Homo sapiens: one gene and its partners. The protein of the gene in region 2 interacts with the protein of the main gene of each other region in a biochemical or structural test. Each region holds a gene or a part of one and is shown on either strand. Other genes may lie near its edges. The genes, in order: LRP2, NOS1AP, SYN2 and SYN1.

Region 1 (7,039 bases), on a different chromosome or scaffold from region 2:
GATTAAAGAGGAAAGAAAGAAATGACAGTAATTAGGATTACATGCCAATCACAGCACTTTAATCACAGCAACACAAATCCCTGGACTTCATTTTTTTGTGATAAGTTCTGATTGAAATTAGAAAATATTAAAGTTAGAAAAATTAATGAGCACATTACCAACAGAACCAAATTTAATTTGACAATCTAATGGCCTCAATTTAGTCTCATTTTTTGAAACAAAGACATAAAAAGAAGTAAAAACACATAACCAAGTACAAAGGATTTAATCAGAAAATTATCCAATGGTGATGTATTTGAATTCAATTATGGTTACCCCCTACACAGATGTGAACTCATAGAGGAACTGAAATCCTTCCTACAAAGCTACACAGTGACTGTGACAATGGTGATGCACACCAGGCTACTGTTCAGAATGAGTTTATGGCCAGTAAACTGTGGTCAGGAAACTTACTGCAAAGTGGGGACTCATCTGTCCCATTGGGGCAGTCAAAGATGCCATCACACACTACACTCAGATTCACACAGATGTTATGGCCAAGACACTGCCATTGCCAACTAGGACAGCGAAAGGGCTGAGTAGGGCAGTCCTTCTCATCACTCATATCCCCGCAGTCATTGTCCCGATCACAGAGCCATGCCCTGTGGATGCAGTTTCCGTTGTCACAGTGGAAATATGATGAAGGGCAAGTCTTGGGGACACAGGCATTGTGCTCATCAGATCCATAGAGGCAGTCTGGATGCCCATCACATTCCCAGAAGTTCGGGATGCAGATACCATCTTCTTGGCACTGAAATTCATCTGAGTGGCACATACCAGGAGGCCTGGTTGCTAGAAGGAAAACATGGGGTAAATCGGCTTGTGAATGTAATTTGTGATCCCTTTTATAGTCTAGACTCAGAGGAAATGATTTTGGATCCAATAGTAGGTTTATAGTAACAACTATGACCAAATTAATATTTAAGGCTAAATGATATAGAGTCTTCTCCCACACTCTAGTACATAGAAATATTTCTTTGTGGCAGCTAGTGGCTCTGACAACAAACGAAGTACAGAACGCACAACTGCTGACTAGCAGATGAGTACCTGTGTCAAAAGAACATCCTGTTTCCTTTTCCTGTGTTTTTAATGTACTTCCAATTGCAGATTCAATAATAAAGTTTATCTATCTTTCTATGAAAGAATCACCAGAACATTACAATAGAGCTTAAATAGCTATGATTACTTTGAACTTCATGTGTTTCATATCATGTTTGGGTGTTATTATTTTCCCTCAGATGAACTATACCTAATGAAACCATCACACACTAACTAAAGATGATGGTAAATACTCAGTTCTTTGCAAACTTTCCACTATTCATCAAGCAATCCTGGAGAGATACGTAAGAACTGCTTCCCTATTTGACAAGGGTAAACCAAAACTCTCTACCAGGGATCTCACAAGGCAACAGCAAGCCAGCGGCAATTGACAGTTTAACCTCAGCTCATCACAGAATTTTATGTTTTTAATGTGAAACAGGAAAATTAGTGATTAGTAATTTCTAGATGTTGTGCAAACTATAAAGTATATAAGCATTTTATTTAACTTTTCTTTTTAATCCATGGCTTTACACACTACCTTTCTGACGCAGGAGGAGAATTCATGAAAACTTACTTTTTTGGTCTAAAACACCATTGTTCAAACAAATGATCAACTCACTGATGAGTTTTTGCAAGTCTAAAATCCATTTAAAACAAAAAGTGGGCAAATAACAAATCATGTGAGTATAGGTTTCCAGTCTGTGAAGATTATAGATCCATCAGAATTATACTGTATGAAGTCCTACTTGAATCCTCCAACTAGAAGAAATTTCTTTTCTCTGAACCTCCATAGAATTTTATCTGTGCCATTTCTAAGACCCTTGTAACTGTCTATCTTGCTTAATTGTCTCTTGCCTTCTATAATCTCCATAGATAACATCTTAGCAGATATTCAACACATAATAGCACAAAGAATGAATTCATCAGAGTCAATACTAAACACAGCTCCATACCATTTCTACACCATGATATGACTTCTCTACTGAAACTTAAAAGAAACCAGTAAAATATCTTTATATGGAGTAGAGCCTCAAAAGTTTAAACCTACTAAAGTGGGAAGTCCTAAGAAAAACTAAAAGTGAAAACAAAAATATCTAAGAAATATTTAGCCCATCTAAGAGACTATTTGAAGTGTCCATTTATACAACCACTTGATTTGTTAATTACACATTATATGGCAATGTCTACTCAATTTTACTGTATGTTCAATACCACATTCCTTTGAGGATACTTTCCCCCAGTTTGTCTGAGTTAGGGAAAATGTGTGGCAATATCAATATCAATACTGGCAAAAATGAAATGACCCCTTTGTCTGAAACATTCTGGGTATGTGTTACTTACGACAGCCTGCTTCATCCGAGTTGTCACTGCAATCAAAAACACCATCACAACGATTTGTGACGCCAATACATTTATCCCCACTGGCACACTTGAATTGAGAAGCAGTACAGTTTAATACTAAGAATGAAAGAGAAAAGCATTAGAAATTAGCTCAGGGCTAAAATGACTAAACACTGAGATTTTTCTTTTTTGTTGTTATACTTTAAGTTCTGGAGTACATATGCAGAACATGCAGGTTTGTTACATAGGTATACACGTGCCATGGTGGTTTGCTGCACCCATCAACCCATCATCTACATTAGGTATTTCTCCTAATGCCATCCCTTCTCTAGCTCCCCACCCCCCAACAGGCCCCGGTGTGTGATGTTCCCCTCCCTGTGTCCATGTGTTAACACTGAGATTTTTCTAAATAAACATTGTGAATAAAAAAGAAGGCAATGCACTTACCACAACCAACCTCATCAGATCCATCAACACAATCCTTGTCACCATCACAGACAAACGATAGGTCAATACATCGATGATTGGGGCAATTAAACTGACTAGGTTGGCATGTCTCTGTCGAATCTAATGTCATCCGAAAACAAAACCAACAAGTTTATTTCCTGTGCAACAAGTACCAGAGCCAAACTAAAAATGGCTAAATAGCTACAGAAGTTATCTCAATTGTACATGGGTTCAAAATTCTTTTGAATCAGCCACACTATCAAAGTCAGCTAAGCAAAAGAACTCAAAACTAGGATAGGTTTTAGAATTGAGAATAAAAAGATTACAGGGCAGAGTCAGAAACTGTGATTACACCTTGGAAAATAGACCACATTCAGAAAGTGAGCATCATGTGCTTGGACTTGGACTACATTTCATGAATACTATGAAGTCCATGACTCTAGACCAAAGCCAAGCAATGGAGCCCAATCAGGCAACAAAACCAGCATGACCCACATGCCTAGTAGCAACAGTGTGTAGACAGACCCCCAAAACTGGATTTAAAAGTCTGAACAGAACAATTCTAAAAACCAGGGTCCTACCTTACTGTTAAGACCATAGCCTTGGAGTCGGATGCAGTGGCTGGCCCCACCCACAACATGAAATTATATTAAATACACACTTATAGGGTATGAAAGCTAGAAGGGATCTTAAAGCTCATCTATTCCAAATGATAGTGACTTGCCTAGTCAGGCAACCAGGACTAGAACTTAGCCCAGGGAACTTTGCTCCATCTTAAACTATTATTGAAGACATGAAATAAAACAACAAGCTAAAGGAAAGCAGAACTGGCAAGATGGAAAACAGGTGGATAAGATCAAAGGAAATTTAAATTTTCTGTGCCTCTTTATTTTGATGTCTTTTTGCTTGTACCAAATGAAAAAGAAACATCAATAGCCAAAGGTCTGGATATATCTATATGACTTTTAGTATTGTTTTAAATATATAAATAGATAGCTGAGGGATTTTCACTTTTTCAATTCCTATCTGAATTGAAATGTTTGGCATCAGAGGCAGTCCTTGCTTTGCTTCCATAGAACTCAATATTTGTAGGTGGACTCTAAGAATCCCATGTGCAGGCACGTGCCTTTGTTCTTGTAACCTATTGACACAGAGATTGACAAGTGGAATAGAAGTACTAAAGAGACAATGAAAATTGCATGAGCCTTAGAGGAAAGAATGCAAGGCCATTTGGTTGTTGAAGTCTATTTACGAGGCTGACCAACCAAGGGAAACCAGCTCAAAACTTACTGCAGTTCTTTTCATCAGATCCATCCCCACAATCATTGTCTGTGTCACAGACCCAGTTCTTTGAGATACACTGGTGATTATCACAGGTGTATTGGGTGTCAAGGCAGGAAGCAGGTGCGTGGGTGGGGCAGTTGTGCTCATCACTGCCATCCACACAGTCGTTGCGTTTGTCACAGCGCCAGTGTGCAGGAATGCACTCCCCATGGCCACAGGTGAACGCCGAAGATGAACAGGTATTATCTACAATAGTAACAAACTGGTCATGAAGACATTTGTTTTTACAGCCTTTTAAATGAGTTCTTGCCTTATAAAGGCTCAGTTCACCTTTTTTAATGGAGGCATTGTATATAATAAGGAGAAATGTTCATCAAGTGATGTCATCATCACTAACATCATTATTGGCTGGCATTTATTTGGTATTTATCATAGAAAAGGCATTTTTCTAAGTTATGCACCCACACACATCATATAAGTTCTCTTTAAATCCTCACAAGAATACTATAAAGTACATATAATTGTCTGCATTTTACAGATAAGGAAATTGAGTCTTTGAGAGATTTAGGAACCTGCCTATGATTCACGCTCTGGTTGGATTCACTCTAAAGCTCATCCTTAACTTTCAAGCTGTTACTTCCTCCAACCACAATTTCAAATTCAGACTATAGAAAGCTTGAAAATATGTCATATGAAAAGTGCAAATAGATAAAATATTAAGGTAAAATGCTGTGCTCTTAGAAACAAGAAGATAATACACAAAAAGATGAAAATTTAAAAAATTTCAGAAAAATGTACAAGTGAGCACTTTACTCTTGCAAATCTGTCACTCCTCTTTCTCTCCAAAAGAAAGGTTATTATTAGTATTAACTTCACCTTGATAGAGATTTCTGAGATTTCAACTGTCCTCTATCTTTTTTTTAATTTGAATGTAATACTTTTGCCTTCTGCAATAGTGTTTATTAGGCCCCAAACTATATAGACTAGATTACCGTCAAAAGAAGAATATAAAGGTTAAGACCACCATTTCATTGTTAATTTATTTTACTCTAACATGGGAGAAAAGGAATATAACACATGAGATTTTCCAAAGGCTATGATTGCAAGTAGTTATTCTGTGATACTATTCTCTCGGTTGCTAAATGTTAGGTCTACTTTATTTTTGGTTTTTGTTGTTGTTGTTGTTTGTTTGCTTATTTTTTTGAGGCAGGGCTTCACTCTGTTGCACAGGCTGAAGTACACGGCACAGTCTTGGCTAACTGCAGCCTCAACCTCCCCAGCTCAAACAACTCTCCCACCTCAGCCTCCCAAGTACAAATTTTTGTATTTTACAAATTTTGTGAAAATACAAAATACAAATTAGCTGGGTGTGGTGGCATGTGCCTGTAGTCCTAGCTACTTGTAATTTTGTTTTTTTTGTATTTTGTAATTTTGTATTTTGTAATAGTCCCAGCTATTTGTAATTTTATATACATATTTTTTTCTGAGCTCATCTATTTCTTTTTTATTTATTTATTATTATTATACTTTAAGTTTTAGGGTACATGTGCACAATGTGCAGGTTAGTTACATATGTATACATGTGCCATTTTATATTTTTTGTAGAGACCGGATTTCGTCATGTTTCCCAGGCTGGTCTCAAACTTCTGGACTTAAGCAATCCTCCTGTCTCGGCCTCCGATTACAGGCATGAGCCACCTTGCCTGGTCAGATCTAGTTTATTTCGATTTGACTTTTTGAGGAGTTTGCCAAGACATAATGACTGCATTGGTCCAAACAGCCAATGTCAAGGAAAAAAATTGTTGAAGATAGTCTAAATCAAGGCCAGAAACCATCCATAACATTATGAATGAAATTTCTTGCTTAGCTTCCTAAAAGCCTTCAAAGTGCATGTTAAGAATCTGAAATTCTAAAAGATATTTTTCCCATATAAATAGCCCAAGCTTTTATTTATTTTCTTTAAAGCCCACCTCTACTCTATTCATCCCAGGAAATATCGCCAGTGCATAGCTACTTACTAAGTGTGCCACATAGTTGCTCATCACTGTTATCATGACAATCATCGACTCCATCACAGAGATAGTAATTGGGCACACATCTGCCATTTTTACAGGGGAAGGAAAATAAGCCACACTGCTCTGTGGGTGGTTCATTGGTTGGGTCCCCCTCGCATGTCAAGTGATTGGAAGCCAGCCTCATTCCATAAGGGCACCCACACACTCGCTGGAAATTTGGCACCGGGAAGCAGAAGTGGCTGCAGTCACCGTTAGGATGCGTGGGTTGATTACAGGCGTTAGAACCTGCAAAAGCAAAGCCCCGAGGGAGTCAGTCATGTACATTTTCACTAGGTAGGTCACGGGTTTGATTTGTGAAGGAAAACAAACAGGACAAAACATTTTTCAGACCCAATACTAAAAAGTAGCTTCCTCTTGGAAATCAACCCGCCAAATACAACATTCCATTTAGGTATGGAAAAGTCCCAAAATGTGTTTTTCCTGACAACATGTTTAAGGCTAGCAGCATTGAACAGAGATTTCAAGTCTTACACTCTTAGATTATGTGAACGACAAGAATATAAAACTACCAGGAGCTAGACCTTTAAGTAATAAGTACTTAAAGAGAACAGGAGCCACTGTAACAAATAAATAAACCCATACAAAAAAATAAAAAAAACTGGGCAATCTCACTCACCAGTCTGGATGTTGACATCATACGATTTCAAATGCAGTATGTAAGCAATGCCACTTCGGATAACTGTCATTTCTCCACCATCTGCTTTCCTGACTCGAATAATGGCACCCAGTCTCCAGTCAGTAAAAAATAAATGCTCTGAAAAGAAACATGGGTAGATTAGTATTTTCAGTCACAGCTAACTTATAAATAAATC
Region 2 (7,039 bases):
GGACTTAATAACAATAATAAAAACAGCAGCCAACTCTGTGTCATGCACGGTGCTAGGCCATTTACAGGTACTACTGATTCAATCCTCCCATTAACCCTACGAAGTATGAGATATTTGTATCCTCTTTTTACAAATGAGAACGCTAAAGGAAAGATGTTACATAACTCACACAAAGTCAAGTAGCAAGTGAGGGATAGAGCCAGGATTTGAACCCAAACACAGTTTGGCTCCTGAATTCATGCCATGCTATGCTACCAACCAAATTCATGTCATAAAAATTGCAAAGTAGCAAATTACAGAAAATAAACCATGAATTAGGAAAAAAAAAAGACATCAATTCATTAATGAGAAAACAAGTTGAAAATGTTTCTTACATAAATGACAATTGAGAAATGACAATTACCTACTCCTGAAATTGGCCATATGTTCTATATTCAGATTCTAATTCCACTGGACATCCATCAGTGGAATTTTATTTAATTCAGGAAAAAAAAATGCTTACTTGGTATTTTCATTGGAAGGAATCAGCACTGTGTGAGATTGGGGGTATCAGAAAGAGGCCATGCTGGGGGGTCCCTCAAGCCACTGGGAACCGGAAGTTACTAGACTAAAGCAAGAGAAATGGTGGGGAGGAGTGGAGAGTCAATTAAGGCACCTCTCACCATTGGGTGACCCAGGAGGGTCCTGGCCATCTTATAGGGATCATCTCTTTCATTCAAAATACATTTTCTATGTGCAAGGCACTGTACTCAGGGCTGTGGAAGACACGGGGGCAGAGTGACATGGACCCTGACAATGACAATGTAGGGATGAAAATTGGACAGGACAAGCAGCTCTAATACAAAGCAGGTGGGACTGGTAACATCCACTTCACAGAGTGACTTGTGAACGGGGTGGGAAACTGCAGTGAGGGTTAAGGGAATGGTGGGTACTACAGTTGGGTTGAAGCCCAGGGTGATTAAAGGGAATTGTTCAAAAACAGCCTTGAATATCATACTAAGAATTTTGGTTCTAATATAGTAGGTACAGAAACTTTTCATGTTTTTGAGTGGGAGGATAACCATTTCAAGAAAATTGATAGGGCAAAAGTTTAAGGGATGAGGGGGATCAGAGAACAAGTGGGACACTGGAGGCCTTCAGAAGGTTATTGATGGCCCTGATAACAGGGGAGGGGGTGGAGCATCTGAACGGGTGATGGACCAGCCAGGGTGGGTGGATGGATGTCACTGGGAACATTCAAGAGGATTTGGCACCTAACTTGATGTGGGGTACAGGAGAGTAGAGCCTGGACATCATAGGTACCCAGTAAACAGCAAATTTGAGTTGGCTGTTAAATCAAAGAATACAAGGGGTACTTTAAAGTGTCAGGCCCATGTGCCCAAGAGGATGGTGGGGTCGTTAAAAGACAATGAAGTCAGAAGAGAAATTTGATTTCCAGCTTGTTGAGTGATAGGGACAGCAACACATTCAGGTACAGATGACCAGCAGGAAGCTGCGCATAAAGATGTGGAGTCTGGACTGAAGTAGAGAGCCAGCAGCCTGCATAACAGAAGAGTGGGAGTAGATAGAATCCAAAGGAGAGGGAATGGAGCACTCACAGTAGAGGGCAAAGGGAGGAGGTAGAACAGCCACAAAAGAAGGAGGTATGGGCAGGGGCAAGGGGCTGGCTGACTGCAAGCAGGCACAGAGAGCCCAATGAGGCATTCCACAGAGGACTAGGACAGGCAGCTCAGGAAGAAAAGTCAAAAAGGATGAGGATAGAGAAGGGGGCAGCAGAGCAATTTCAGTACAGCAGCCAGGACAGAAGTTGGAAGGAAGTGGCCAGGGACTGAATGAAGACTGAGATACTGCAGAGGGTGGAGTACTCTCTCACAAGGCTTAGCTGTGAAAGGAGGAGAAAGACAACATGTTAATTAAAGAAAGAGGTGGAAAGAAGAGGTATTTCATACAGGGAAGGCCATAGCATACTCTTAGGCAGGGAGGAGTAAGCCAGTGCCCAGGAGATGTAACTGTGCCAGGGTGGGGGTGGGGAGTGAAGGGCATAATTAAGAGGACAAGGGCAGACTAACAGGACATGGAAGGCAGATGGATCTCAAAATGAGGGAAAAAGAAAAAAAATTGGACTTCACCAAAATTTAAAACTTTGTGTTTCAAAGGACAATACCAAGAAAGTGAAAAGACCACAGAATGGGTAAAAATATTGCAAATCTATATAAGGGATTTGAATCCAGAATATATAAAGAACTCTTACAACTCAATAGTAAAAAAGCCAATCCAACTTTTAAATGGGCAAAGGATCAGAATAGACATTTCTCCAAAGAAAATATATAAATGGCCAAAAAACACATGAAAAGATGGTCTTTTTTTTTTTCTCTGAGTCTGCTTCCTAGGGAATGAGGAGACATTCTATGTTGTTCAAAAGGGAAATGCAAATCAAAACTATGATGAAATCCCACTTCACACCCAGGAGGATGGCTAGAATCAAAAAGTCAGACAACAAGCATTGGTGAAGATATGAACACACTGCTGGTGGAAAGGTAAAACGATGCAGCCACATTGGAAGTCCCACAAATGGTCACACATGGTTACCATGGGACCCAGCCATTTTACTTTTACCCAAGATAAATTTTAAAAAATAAAAATAAAAACATGCCTGCACAAAAACTTGTACATGAATGTTTATAGCATTATTTTTAAGAGGCAAAAATGGAAACAACCTAAATGTGCCTCAGCTGATGAATGAACAAACCAAATGTGGTATATCCATACAATGATATATTATCCAGCCATATAAAGGAATTAAGTACTGATAAATTATAGATGAACCCTGAAACACAACACTAAGGCAAAGAAGTCAGACACAAAAGACCACATATTGTATAATTCCATAAATATGAAATGTCCCGAATAGGCAAATCTAGAGACAGCAAGTAGATTAGTGGCTGTTCAGGTCTGGGAAGACGCAGGGGGTAAGGATTACAGGTGTGTGCCATCATGCCCAGCTAATTTTGTATTTTTAGTAGAGATGGGGTTTCACCATGATGGCCAGGCTAGTCTTGAACTCCTGACCTCAAGTGATCCACCCGCCTTGGCCTCCCAAAATGCTGGGATTACAGCAGTGAGCCACCGCGCCCAGCCTAGTGTTTCTTTTTAATGTGATGAAAATGTTCTAAAATTGACTGTGGTGCTGGTAGTACAGATCTGTAATATCTTAAAAATCACTAAATTATACATTTTAAATTAGTGAATTGTATGGTATGTGAACTACATCTCAATAAAACTATTAGAAAGGAGGGAACTCAATAGTAAAAAGCCAATCCAACTTTTAAATGAGCAAAGGATCAGAATAGACATTCTCCAAAGAAAATATATAAATGGTCTTTTCCAAAAACAGAAAGGAAGAAGAAAAGTAGCAAAGATCAAGTTTGCAGGGTAGGGCAAAAAGGCAGGAAGGAACGGCCATGGGCATGGTCCCAGGCTGCTGGGGAGGGTAGACAGCAGGACAAGGGCAGCAAAAAGGTCACTGAGGAGCTAAGAGCATCCTCAAGGCAACAAAGGTATAAAGGGAAGGCAGGTAATTATAGCCAGCGAAAGCATTCTGAAAGTTTGAGTCTTGGGAGTAGCTGCATTATGAGTAGGCAATAGTAAACAGTGAGTCAAGCCTGATTAGTATAGATAACTGGCAAAGGTCATCATTAGATGTGGCTGCATGATTTTGACCACTAAAAAGGACTGGGACATTGTGGGCAAAGGAACTACGACTGAAAGCCATAAAATCATGAAATGTACAGCTAACGTGGAAATAGATTTGTCCATCAAATCCCAAGATACCAGGTGTGGAGGAACATACTGGGACATCTGAGAGCAATGTAAGGACAAATAAAATAGGTGTCATTTCAGAGCAGTACTGTATCTTTGGAACTCACTGCCCCCCACCAAAAAAAAAAGTAGTCTGGGCAGAAGATAAGTGTTTTTAAAAGCATCTGGAAAAGCATAAGAAAGTGAACTACGTCTCCTCCTTAATGATGACATCAGAAAATACATCAGACCCTTAATCTGAATTGCTACTGTTCCAGAACCCTGGAAGACAGGACCCTTAGTCTGGGTGGAGAGAAGGGAGAAAGGGGACATAAACACCCAGTGTATAGTGGAATGGTTCTGAGAGCTCTGTACCATGCCATGCAGGCTCAGACGAGTCAGGGATACCCCATTTACGGTGACCAAATGTCATTCATCTGGAGGCCTTCATGGCCGTATGTTTAAGAGGCATCCACAGATATCCTGCTGAGGTTACTGGAATCTCTAAAATCCACATCAGGGAAACCATCAACCAATGAAGCCAGGTAGCAAGGAAGGAAATATAGCCAGAGAATTCAGCTTCAATCTGACCACATGCTCCCAAGCCACAAAATCACTCAGCAATGATATTTACTGCTTTCAGACTTTCCACAATTGGTCATTTCTTCCACTTGACAATTTTTCATTGTGACTATGTTTGTACCTGATGTTGAGGCTTGGGAGGGGGAGATACACCAAGGCATGAGGCAAGGTCCTCAAAGAACATTCCATATCACCAGAGAAGATATATGCAGAGAGGAAAAAACAGAATTTTGTGTGGTAAACAGCTTCAGCAATATCTCTCATCCCACGTGCAATCTTGCAATGTGAACTTGACATTCCCCCATCAAGAAGTAGGGCTTATGTCTCTTCCCTAATAGCCTGTTTTGACCAACAGGATGTGGCAGAAGTGACCCTATGTAACTCAGAAAGACCCAACCTTAAGAGCTTCTGCTTTCCTGCTTGGAACACCCCCTACTGAAAACCAGCTGCCAAACAAAAGGGCCACCATGCTGTGAGGAAATCCAAGCCAGCCAGTGAAGAGAATAGTCACATGAAGGACGACCAAGGCACAGTCATATGAGTGAAGCCTTCTTGAACATTCCAGCCTAGCTGTGGATGAATGCAGCAAAGTGAGTGATCCAGTCAACGCCATAAGCAACAGAAGAACAGCCCAGCCAAGCCCTGCCTGAATTCCTGAGCCATGATTCATAAGCAAATTAAACAGTTATTGTTTCAAGCTACTGAGTCTTGAGGTCGTTTGTTTTGAAGTGATGGATAACTGAAACCAGTTTGAAGCCAGGGAACCAGGGATAAGTCCTGGTTCTGTTATTATCTGACTATGTGACCTTGGGTCCATGACTTCCCCTCCAAACTTCAATTTCCTCATCTGTACAATGATGGGGTGAGGGGGTTGTACTAGATGAGCCATGGTGCTTTCCAGTTCTGACCATCTGTATCATACACGCAGATATAAGGGAACAATCTAGGCAATGAGTGTTAGGACTACAAAGGGAGCAACTATTAATACTTCAGGTTTGAGTGAGCCTTGGAGGAGGTGAAAGAACCATGGACCTGGAGTCAAAAGCCCTGGAGTGTGAGGATTAAGTGAGGCAGAGGCTAGAATAATGTATGGCACATAGTAAGTGCTCAATAAATATCATTAACTGATACACCAATTTGCAACTCTGGACAAATTAATCTCTCTGATCTCCATTTTTTGGTCTGAAAAATCGAGATAACACTAATGTGCCTGTGCCTGTCTCTATAAGAGGAAAAGTCTTTGTATGTAGAAGTCCAATGCAAATCAAAAATCACCTACAGATATAAGATATAACTATTATTAATACTCTTATTATCCTTTGTACCCATAGCATTAAAAGTCTCTTTCTCACCAAGAGAGGAGAGACAGTCAGTTGATGGCACTGGCCACCAGGAAGACATACTGGGAGATCAGGAGGCAGTTACTAAGGAGCCACAGGCTCTCAGGGCATGTGAGATTTACCCACCCACCAGCATCAGTCAGTAAGCCAGGTACCCACTCTGAACACAGACAACAGGTTTCCCTGGCAAGCAGCTCTCAGCCCAAAGGGAAATCTGGAAACAGCCAAGCATTAAAAGTTTGAGCCGGGCGCAGTGGTTCACGCCTGTAATCCCAACATTTGGGAGGCTGGGGCAGGCAGATCACCTGAAGTCGGGAGTTCGAGGCCAGCCTGACCAAAACGGAGAAAGCCCCATCTCTACAAAAAATACAAAATTAGCTGGGCATGGTGGCGCATGCCTGTTATCCCAGCTACCCAGGAGGCTGAGGCAGGAGAATCACTCGAACCTGGGAGTTGGAGGTTGTGATGAGCTGAGATCATGCCATTGCACTCCAGCCTGGGCAACAAGAGCAAAACTCCATCTCAAAATAAATAAATAAATAAATAAATGTTTGAATAATTTCCTGTACCAGAGTTCTAGAGGCCAGCAACCTGAGAACACTCCACTAGAGAGCTGTGACTCAAACCCGTGGCCAACATAGAGTGAATATTCCATAAAAATTATTGAATGAAAAGGCACTGGATTTGGGAGTCTGAAGTCAAAGCCCCAGGCTTAAATCTTGGCTTTGTCATACACAACTGTGAGCACTAAGGCACGCAACAACCTCCCTGAGCCTATGTCCTCGTTTATAAAATAGACATAAGGAGACCCATCTCCTAGGGAAGTAGTGAGAATTAAATGAGGTACTGCAGGTGAAAAAAATCTGGGATTGCACTTGATAACTAAATGCATGGGTTTTTAAGTGCACAGAACCTCTGCCACCCAGATGCCCTTCGATCCTAACCCCACACCTTTCAATCTCTGCAGAACCCTGAAAATGAGTGGCATACTTCCAAAGGAACACTCAATCCAATGTTGATTCTGAAAAACTGCCAGCCCTTGGGAGAGAAAGAGCTGCACTCATTTTCCAAGGGTACCCGACAAGGCAACAATAATACATTTGCATTTTCCAGCCTGCATTTTTCCAAAACAAGGGAAGACTGCGATGTGGATTTAACCCTGAAATCCCAGTGATTGTGCAGTTGCATAGACACTGCTCTGCAGGGATGTGGAAAACAGCCAGAGAAGGCTCTTACCAGGAGCATGTAGGACAGAAAAGCTCGTGCTTCCACCTCTGCTTAGGTCTTGACTAACATGGTGTTTGAATGTGCCAGGGTGC
Region 3 (3,184 bases), on a different chromosome or scaffold from region 2:
CTTCATTTTCCTTATGAAGATTCCCACGTACGCATAAAAATATTAAATAAAATGTGTATACGTTTGTCCTGTTCATCTGTCTTATGTATGCTTAATTTTCAGGCCCAGCCACAGAACGTTAAGAGGACATCTGCCTCCCCTACAGCTGGAAACAGAAGGAACTCTAAAGGTCAATTGCCTTGCGCCCAGGTACCCCACGCATTGGTTTGGTTGGTTTGTTCCTTAGTTATGTGTGTTGTGGGAGGAGGGCTCTCACCCCCCAGGGGTCACTCAATGGGAGGTTCTACTTCCTGTTTTCTAAGTGTAAGAAGAGGGTACGGTGCTCAATCCTTGAACTGTGAAAACAGAGAATGAGTAAGAAAGGAGACCCTGGTTCTCGGAGAAATTCATTCTCTGACCTTGCAGCATCTACTGCCCGTGAAGAGAAGTTAAGATAGTGGCATTTGGAGGAGGTTATCTTGTTGAGTTAGTAGGATGGGTGTCATGTGTAGGAAATTATCTAGATACTTATTAACATTCAGATATTAACATTTTAATATATGGATTTTTTATTGGTGCAGATGTAGTGTTTATCTTCACAGCATCCGTGGTCTTTGGGAAAATATACTTGAGTATCAGGGAGTCATGAAGCAGCCAGAGTGAAATCCCTCAGAGCCCACCCTCAATTGCAGGCCTCTTTAGGATGCCTTCGTTGAGATCTGTGGGAGCCTGGTTGTCAGAGCAGGTTGGTCCAGCCTCATTGGCACCACCATGTGGGCCTCAGCTGAGGAGCTTGATGATAGACCAGGCAAGTGAGTCTAAATTGACTCCTCCGGGAGCAAGGGTTCTGTGCTTATTTGAAAGGTTACAAAGTCCGTAATATAGGTAGAAACGCTGAGTTGCTGAAGGAAGGCTAGGTGTCTTGGAGGAGACAGATTCACTGGGGAGGTGCGAGGAGGCCCAGAAGTGGTATGTAAAGGACAGACACATTCTCAAACACTTGCAAACACATGTACACCTGCAGTCACACACACAAACTGACACAAACAGCTTCACACACCTAGATTTTTCACTCCCTACACTCAAGCACACACACACACACACCCCTCATGGACACTCTCTCAGCCTAAAGGGTGGCCAAGGGGTCAAGACCTCATGGCTGAATCAAATGTTGGTGAATGCTGCTGCTTTTATTACACCAAAGGTCTTAACGTTTATTAGGAGATGAACACAAAGCTTGGCATACTGCTGTCATAGTGGCATGCATTCTCCTCTATAGTGCAGCTCTGGAGTTCAAGGTTACTGCAGATTGCACATAAGAACCACTCTTCAGAGGGGAGAAAAGGGGAAACTGCAGATCCTTGTTCTCCCGAATATCAGCAGACTCAAGGTGCTTCACCACCACAGCAGCCTAAGATCTTGTAAGTTGGGTGGGTGTGCTTTAAACAGTAACACAGGTATGACAAGGGATCCAGGTCGGGGAAAGTTCCTAAAACTTAGGGCCAAGAGTACTTTTGGGGAAGTATATACTTCCCAAACAGGTATCACTGAATGGGGGCGGGGCATGCTTAGCACTGCAACTGAGCTAGGTTAAGCTGCCAGGAGTCCACGATTAATCCTGGTTTCACAGGGAAGAATAAGACATGATGGCACTGTCACAATAAGGCCACTAAACTCACAGCGAACGATGACTTCAGAAGGAAGCTCTCATGACTACAGGGAAGCAGCTCTTTCCTCTCTGATGCCAGGTACCCCTTGCTGGGTAGGCACCTGCCCTGAGACTGTCAAATGGTCCTTTCTGGGCTGCACAACATCACTTAGTACAACAGAGCAGAGGAAGGGACCACACACGTCAAGGTCATGGGACATAACCACCAAGCTGGCTGACTGTTGTTGGTGAATGTCTTAGATGCCTTTCCCGGTTGGGCTGGGTGCCCCGTGTGTCTGAAGAGCTAATCTGAAAAGAGGCTGGCAAAGGACTTCCTCAAGCTCCGGATGGTCTCTGCTTTGGCTTCATCCTCATTGGCTGAAGACCGGAAGAAGGAGGACTCAGAGAAGCTGAAGGCATTTGTCAGGGACTGCGACTTGCTTGAAGATAAAAACCAGAGAGAATGTGAGAGGGTGGTGTTCCCAGCAAGGCAGGGAAGGACGGTGACGTGAGGATACACAGCTAGAACCCCCACTCCCTCCCTGGGAAACCAAGGTGATGGAGGATAATGCCAGAAGTGGCCATGCTACCAAGACCCTGGGAGACTCCTACGCTACTTCCTCAACTTTGGTGCTACTAGAATAGAAAGGGTGGGGACAGTGTGGGAACAAGGGAGAAGGAAAAAAATAAAGAAGGGAAAGAGGAGGAAGAGGCGACTCAAAGGCCGCTTCTTTAATTTAATCTGAAATGCCCAAGGGCTAAATTTCACAGATCCCAACTTGGTAAGAACTAACCTAGGAATCTCACATTACTTTTCTGATGAAAAGAAGTCACAATGGGCCTGTGATGCTGGCATTGTCTTCTCTATCAACTGTCAACTGGTGGAGCCAGATGAGAAGACCTGGGCCAAAGTCTCGTTTTGCCACTCACTCCCTCCTAACTGGAGGCAAGCCACGTGCCTCTCTTTGGGTTCTCATCTGTCAAGTTTGGTAAAATGAAGATCTCTAGGCACTTTTGGCTCTTTCTATTCTGATCTCTTCTCTGATTCCAAAAGAATATATTGGCTTGGCTCAAAACTCTAACACTTCAATTTCCCTGTTCTCTTTTTGTTTGTTTTGTTTTGTTTTTTTTTGAGACAGAATCTCTGTCGCAAAGGCTGGAGTGCAGTGGTGCGATCTCTGCTCACTGCAACCTCCGCCTCCCGGTTCAAGCGATTCTACTGCCTCAGCCTCCCAAGTAGCTGGGACTACAGATGGTTGCCACCATGCCCAGCTAATTTTTGTATTTTTAGTAGAGATGGGGTTTCACTTGGCCAGGCTGGTCCTGAACTCCTGACCTCATGATCCGTCCGCCTCTGCCTCCTAAAGTGCTGGGATTAGAGGCGTGAGCCACCGCACCCGGCAATTTCCCTGTTCTTAAAATGGATGTAGTAACCACCCTTGTAACCCTCCTCAGAAGAGCGCTAATATGAGGTCTATGGGGTTCAGGGTGTCCAGTGGCAAAAGAGATATATATCAGGCCTTTACAAGTTTCTTAGGGAGTTTTCTAATGAGAAAA
Region 4 (7,039 bases), on a different chromosome or scaffold from region 2:
TCCCAGGTGGGAGAATACAGCGCAGGCCCCCAGGGTTTTGGAGTAGCGGTGACTTTTCCTGATGGTGGGCTGTAATGGGATTCTGGTGGAAGGGAATGTACTGGATGGTGAAATATCCCTGGAACTTGAGTGATGTCAGGGAAATGGTAACCAGACTTGGGTGACTATTCCCTAAACGCCATTGAGTAGCTGAAGAAAGACCTGACATGCTCAGGGTGAATTCAAGGCAAAATGTGAAAGCCAGAGGATCTCCCTGACTGCATTTAAGGAAACCCTCATCTCCTGCAGTCAGAGGGCAGACAGAAGGGAGGGCCAGGCTCAGAATTTAATTCTACGTGGTGGCGGAGCTTCGGAGAAAGTTGACTTCTCAGGCCCAGCACATCTCCTGGGCCATGCTCATGTCCCTAATAGGACAGGAGTAGGACTCTGAGATGGGGATATCTGGGCAGATGCAGTTAAACACCTTGAACTTACAGACTCACCTGCATCCACTGGGCCTGCTGAAGTAGACTACTCCCCTGAGTTAGAATATAGACCTTCTGCTTGAAGATAATGCAGAGGCCTCGGATGATGCAGGTGCTTTGTAAGACAATGCCTGCCCCCCTCAGAGTCTACCCCCCACCTACCCTCCTGGAAACCAGACCAAAAATTAGGGTGAAATCCTAGTGAAACCTGACTGGACAGGTTCTAGGCTTGCAAAGGGAGAGAAATGATCTGTAGAAGAACCTAAAGAATCTGGCTAGTACGTATTGGCAGGAGCTGGGAAGGTATGCATGAGACTGGATCCTGAGGACAATGGGCGAAGGAGGTAGAACAGGAAGTTGGTGTGCTCTCCCAGGATACGGAACTTAAAACCCTGGCGAGGACTCTAGGAAGTGTTACTAACACACTGGTATTTGGAAACCTGGAGTAAACAATGGCCCACACTAAGTGAAGCAGAACTTCCATGGCAGATTGCACAGGGAAGGATTAAAGGGCTCAAAGAAGCAGACATGTTGGAGTAGATATACTACTGAAGTCTGGAAAACCCACCAGCTGATTAAGGCCTGGAGGATACACTCAACTTATGAAATTAATAAGAAACATGCTGGTGAGGGTGGTACCAGTCACGCTGAGAAGCACAGTAGTGGTAAGGTGATAAATGAGTCCTGGCCCAGGTCCTGCTTACAGTGGGTCTGGTGGGTCTAGAGACCCACCCAGTGGTCACTTCCTCAGTTCACAAATGCGTAATTGCAATGGCATACTTTGTAGTTGTCAGAACCCCTACATGGGCTCCTCAGCCTGTGGGATAAGAGCTGTTTCAGTAGGGAAGTCCAAATAGAAGCTTCTAAAATGGCGCACACCCCCATGCCCTGAACAAAACAATAAACCACAAACAATATTGTGTGCATCCTATGGGTGATGATGGAAATCAATGCCACATTGAAAGATCTAAAGGATGCAGGGGTGTTGGTCTCATCTTATCTCCATCGAGTTGAGCAGTCTGGCCCCTGGAGAGGTCAGATGGGTCCTGGAGAATGCTTGCAGATTACTGCAAGCACAATCAAGTAGTACCCTTAGTTATACCTGCCATACTGGACACGCTGTCATTGCCAGAGCAGATTAATAAGACCTCAGGTACAGCAGGTGGCTGCTGACTTGGCAAATGCATTCTTTTTTATTCTGATTAGAAAAAAGGATCAGAAACAGTTTACACTCACATGAGACTGATGATAATATTCATAGATGGTCTTGCTGTAGGGCTATGCTATCTCTCTCACCTGGTGTCATAATATAGTCCAGAGAAACCTGGACTATCTGGACATCCCATGGAATAGCACACTGGACCACCACATGGATTACATCATACTGATTGTGCAAGATGAGCAAGAGAGGGTGAGCATATTGCCCTGGTAAGACACATCCACTACAGAGGGTGGAGGATAAACTCCACAAAGACTCAGGGGACCGATGCATTAGTAAAATTTTTAGGAATCCAGTGGTCCAGGGCAGTAAACCAGGACAGCCCCTCCAAAGAATAGAGCAAAGCATTGAATCACGCACCTTCCACCATGAAGAGGAAAGCACAATACCTAGGAGGCCTCTTCCCATTCTGGAGGCAGCATGTCCCCCACACACAAATAATGCTCTGACCCATATTCCAGGCGACATGTAAAGCTACCAGCTTTGTGTGAGGGCCAGAGCAGAAAAGGGCTCTGCAGCAGGTCCAGGCTGTGGTACAAGCAGTCCTGCCATTTAGGCCAGATGATCTGGCAGATCTTATGATACTGGAGGTGTCAGTAGTGGGGAAAGATGCAGTGAGGAGCTTATGGGAAGCCTGAGTGGGAGGCCCTTGGGGTTCTGGAGCAAAGCCATGCCATCTGCAGCAGAGAATTTTACGCCTTTTGAGAAAGACACCCCATTGAGGTGCTGGGCCCTGATAGAGACAGAATGCTTGACCAGGCACCAAATGATTGTGCATCCAGAAGTTCCCATTATAAGCTGGGTCCTGCTGGGCCCGCCAAATAATAAAGTCAGGTGGGCCCAGCAGTCAGGATTGAGCCCAAGCAGAACCAAGCAAGGTGCATGAGCAGGTAAGTAACCCTGATCCCCATGTCTTCCACACTGTTGTGCTAGTGCCTGTCTCACTAAGGGGACTCCTTAAAACTAGCTGATGAAAGAGGGAAAGGTCTAAGCTTGGTTCACAAATTGGTTGTCTTAGTATGTGGGTGGAAGCCAAAAATGGGCAGTGGTTGCACTATAACCCAACTGGAATGGCCTTGAAAGACAGTGGCAGAGCTCCCAGTGGGCAGAGCTTCAGGCTGTGCACCTGCTCATCTCCTTTGTGCAGAAAGAGAAGTGCCTCAAGATTAGAATACATATATCCACTTATGGGCAGTGGTAAATGGTTTGGCTGGTTGGTCAGGGGCCTGGAAATAAAAAGACTGGAAGATCCAGACAAAGAGGTCTGGGATACAGAAATGTGGGCAGACACCTAGGAGTGGGCAAGAAATGAGGAGTGAGACTGGGCGCGGTGGCTCACGCCTGTAATCCCAGCACTTTGGGAGGCCGAGGTGGGCGGATTACCTGAGGTCAGGAGTTCAAGACCAGCTTAGCCAATGTGGTGAAACCCCATCTCTACTAAAAATACAAAAATTAGCCGGGCGTGGTGGCGCACGCCTGTAATCCCAGCTACTCGGGAGGCTGAGGCAGGGGAATTGCTTCAACCTGGGAGGTGGAGGTTGCACTGAGCCAAGATCGTGCCACAGCACCAGCCTGGGCAATAGAGCGAGACTCCGTCTCCAAAAAAAAAAAAAAAAAAAAAAAAAGGGAGGAGCGAGGATCTTTGGATCGTGTGTTAACACCCACCAGACAGCATCTGCCATGGCGCCATGGAAGTGACACTAGGCAACCAGGTAGACAGCATGAGTCAGCCCGATGATGTCAGCCAGGCTCTAATCAGCCACCCCAGTGTTAGCAGATGGGCACATGAATAAGTGGCAATAGCAGCAGAGAGAGAAGCTATGTGTGGGGGCAGCAGTGTTACTGCTGAATGTCCAATCTGCCAGCAACAGAGACTAACATTGAATCCCTGACACGCCACCATCCCTCCAGAAGGCCAACCAACCACTTTGTGGCAAGCTGATTAGATTGGGCCCCTTCCATCCTGCAAAGAACAGTAATCGATTTTGACTGGAATATTCCATATTTGAGTTTGCCTTTTCTTACTGCAGGACCTCAGCCAGCTCACTGTCTAAGGGCTTACATAACGTTTGATCCACCAGCACGAGACCCTGCATAACACTGCGTCAAACCAAAGGACACACTTTATAGCAAAGTAAAGGAATGCAAAGCAAAGGAGGTGCAAAAGTGGGCCCATGACCATGGAATTAACTGATGGTATTACACACCACGCCACCCGGGAGCTGCTGGCCTGATGGAATGATGGAACAATTTGGTGCAGCCACAGCTAAGATCCCAGGTTGAAGGTGAGATCATGCAAGAATGGGCACCATCCTCCAAAACAGTGTCAACCCTAAATCAATGGCCATTGTAGGTGCTGTGTTCCTAACAGGTAGAATACACCGGTTTGGGGACACAGAGGTTAGGAAGGAGTGGCCCAGCTTACCAGCAATCCCAGTGATCCACTTTTGAAATTGTGCTTCCTGTTCCCTCAGGGCTCTGCAAGGTTAGAGGTCCTGGTTCTCCAAGGGGGAACACTGCTACCAGGGGACACAGCAAGAATCCCATTAAACTGTAAGCTATGATTGCCCTCAGGGCACTTCGTGTTTCTCATGCCAAGGGACATAAAAAGGAGCCATTGTCTTGGCAGGGGACGTGACCAACCTTGCTCCTCAGGAGGAGGTAGAGCTGCTGGTACACAGTGGAGGCAGGGAGGAGTATGTCTGGCACCCAGGGGATCCACTTGGGCATCTGTTGGTACTCCTTGCTCAACTTTGATAGTAAATGGGAAATGTGGTTGTTTGTACAGCAGCTACAGCCTGAGAAGGGCATGGGGACCAAAGGCTCAGGGATCTCTGCAGGATGGGAGCCACCCAGACCAAGAGTGGTGCTAGCTGAGGGTGGGGGGAATCTAGAATGGGTAACAAAAGAAGGAGAGGATGAATATCATTTATGACGTTGAAATCAACTGCAGCAGCAGAGACTATGGCTCATCTCACTACCGTGCTCTTTCAAGTGTCCCTGAGAAAACAAGACCGATTAGAATTCTGGAAATGCCGTTCCCCAATGGGGTGAACTTACTATAAGAAGGAAGTGGATCGGAGCAGTGCAAGGTGTGGACTATATGCTCCCCCCAGATCCTTACCTCCTTGTTCCAGACCTTTGCATCTATCCTCAGCTTCTGGAATTATCCGCTGCTGATGGCTCATAGGTGTCCCTCACTGGGCATTGGCCTCTGCAACAGGGATTTGCCTCACCCAAGATTACGCCTCCTCCCAGGGGGCAGCCTACAGCCAATGACTGACATAGGAATTCAAAGCCTGGCCACCCCGCTTCAACTGGGACAACTCTGAAGGGTCATTCCAGTGCCAGAGCTCCCCAGAGGATTGGCCGAGGCCTCTTTTGTGGTTGCATCACAGCTCAACTTTTCCCTCTGCACAATCCTGCTTCCCTCACAACCTCCCCCACAGGTGTTATTCCCAAGCGCTCTCCCCAGTAAATCTGCATGCAAATCTCAGAGTCTCGGGGTCTGCTTCCAGGGAAATATATCTGAGAAAAGAAGCCACAGTAAGAAATAAAGCTTATATAACCCACTATATATGTATTTGCATAATAACTCATCCTATATATGTATTATATAAGACACATATGTTGTACAGCAAATATGAGAATATAGAATGTCTTATATATTATGTAACATATAAAATGTTGTATATTACATATTATGTGTATATGTATTTAGAATGTATATAAATACATATGCATAACTGGAATTAAAGTTTCAATAGATAATTACCTTTACTATGTGTAATGCAGTCTGATTTTTCTATGCTATTTTATTTCATTTCATGAAGAAGAACATATACATATAGATGTATTATGTACTGTAAAGCCATTGTATAACACATGTATTACATACCGTATGTCATATATAATATACATTACAGATTGTATATCTTAATGGAATAACATTATATGTTTTGCTAAACAACAACTCCATTTACTATGTGCAATATGCTCTGTTATTCTCTATTTTTATTTATCCTACTTCAAGAAGAAAGTGAAATGCTGGTCATAAGCCAATAGGTGACCCATAGTTTGAGAAACACCAGAGAGCCGGGCACGGTGGCTCAAGCCTGTAATCCCAGCACTCTGGGAGGCCGAGGTGGGTGGATCACGAGGTCAGAAGTTTGAGACCAGCCTGACCAACATGGTGAAACCCCATCTCTACGAAAAATACAAAAATTAGCCAGGCATAGTGGCATGTGCCTGTAGTCCCAGCTACTCAGGAGGCTCGCTTGAACCCAGGAGACGGAGGTTGCAGTGAGCCGAGATCGTGCCATTGCACTCCAGCCTGGGCGACAGAGCAAGACTCCGTCTCAAAAAAAAAAAAAGAAAGAAAAACACAGGACAAAATTACCCACAAAATGGGGGAGATGAGTCTCAACTTAGAGTTTTCAACTTTAAACCACAGAGGAATTGAGACCCAGGAAGGAATGAGGGTGGTGAGGTTTGGTGGAAAAGGCGTCAGACTGTATTTCGGTGTACATTCCATCACAGAGTTTGCACAACTCCTGCTTTATTTGGGGCTGAAATCCCTGAAGCTAGTGTGGTTCTGAGTGTCTGCAAGTTGGTAAAACAGGTCTCTGTTCCCCACACTGAGCCTGGCGTACATACATAGGCTCTGTCCCTTTGTCCACCCCACCCCACATATAGTAGACACTAAATAAATATTTGCTAGATTGCCTGGAAGAAAAGACTGGAGGGGATGCTGGGATAAAGGGGGGCTTCTGAGATGCAGAAGGGGAAGGGATGGATCTTTCACTGAATTCAGCAGGTGCTCAATAAATGTTTTCTGGACAAAGAAAAAATGGAAAACATTGAATTTGTGATTATGGAAAGGGGAAGGGACTTGTCAGTATTCCATAGATAATAAATGCTTGATGGAAAGAAGGAAGCAGACGCAAAGGACCTGCATGGAGGGCTGGAGTGGAGACCGGAAGTCTAAAGGAGGGTGATTACCTATATCCAGCAGAGGCCTCATTGATGTTTGCTGACTTCAATGGAGCAAACTTAACCAGGAAGATAACACGTTGGTGAGTGGACGTTGGTGAAGGAATTACAGCACGTGCTCCATAAATGCTTTACAGATTGATAGAGAAAAAAGCGGAGAAGCCTGCTGCAGGGATGATAATGTGGCTGTTTGAAAATAATACAGTAAGAGATTAATAAGTGTTTTCTGGACTAATTCGGGGAGAAAAAGGCAGCTGGGGAGATGGCTACTAAGTGGAGGAAGAGGCCTAGCTAGAATAAATGGAAAACAGTGCACATTGTGAGCTTTCAGGATTGTGTTGTGTAAAAGGCAGGATGGAGATTG

What was found.
Region 1: the proteins of NOS1AP (region 2) and LRP2 form a complex in vitro, tested with the Homo sapiens proteins (one study listed by BioGRID).
Region 3: the proteins of NOS1AP (region 2) and SYN2 form a complex in vitro, tested with the Homo sapiens proteins (one study listed by BioGRID).
Region 4: the proteins of NOS1AP (region 2) and SYN1 form a complex in vitro, tested with the Homo sapiens proteins (one study listed by BioGRID).

The regions. Positions count from the first base shown.
Region 1 is NC_000002.12:169,240,535-169,247,573, forward strand, and holds part of LRP2 (low-density lipoprotein receptor-related protein 2 precursor), read right to left. Parts: intron 6,982-7,039; coding exon 6,844-6,981; intron 6,453-6,843; coding exon 6,171-6,452; intron 4,399-6,170; coding exon 4,159-4,398; intron 2,989-4,158; coding exon 2,869-2,988; intron 2,539-2,868; coding exon 2,422-2,538; intron 832-2,421; coding exon 454-831; intron 1-453. UniProt on the Homo sapiens protein: Multiligand endocytic receptor. Acts together with CUBN to mediate endocytosis of high-density lipoproteins. Mediates receptor-mediated uptake of polybasic drugs such as aprotinin, aminoglycosides and polymyxin B.
Region 2 is NC_000001.11:162,072,683-162,079,721, reverse strand, and holds part of NOS1AP (carboxyl-terminal PDZ ligand of neuronal nitric oxide synthase protein), read right to left. Parts: intron 1-7,039. UniProt on the Homo sapiens protein: Adapter protein involved in neuronal nitric-oxide (NO) synthesis regulation via its association with nNOS/NOS1. The complex formed with NOS1 and synapsins is necessary for specific NO and synapsin functions at a presynaptic level.
Region 3 is NC_000003.12:12,189,373-12,192,556, reverse strand, and holds the end of SYN2 (synapsin-2), read right to left. Parts: intron 2,068-3,184; coding exon 1,932-2,067; 3' UTR 525-1,931; downstream 1-524. UniProt on the Homo sapiens protein: Neuronal phosphoprotein that coats synaptic vesicles, binds to the cytoskeleton, and is believed to function in the regulation of neurotransmitter release. May play a role in noradrenaline secretion by sympathetic neurons.
Region 4 is NC_000023.11:47,609,849-47,616,887, forward strand, and holds part of SYN1 (synapsin-1), read right to left. Parts: intron 1-7,039. UniProt on the Homo sapiens protein: Neuronal phosphoprotein that coats synaptic vesicles, and binds to the cytoskeleton. Acts as a regulator of synaptic vesicles trafficking, involved in the control of neurotransmitter release at the pre-synaptic terminal.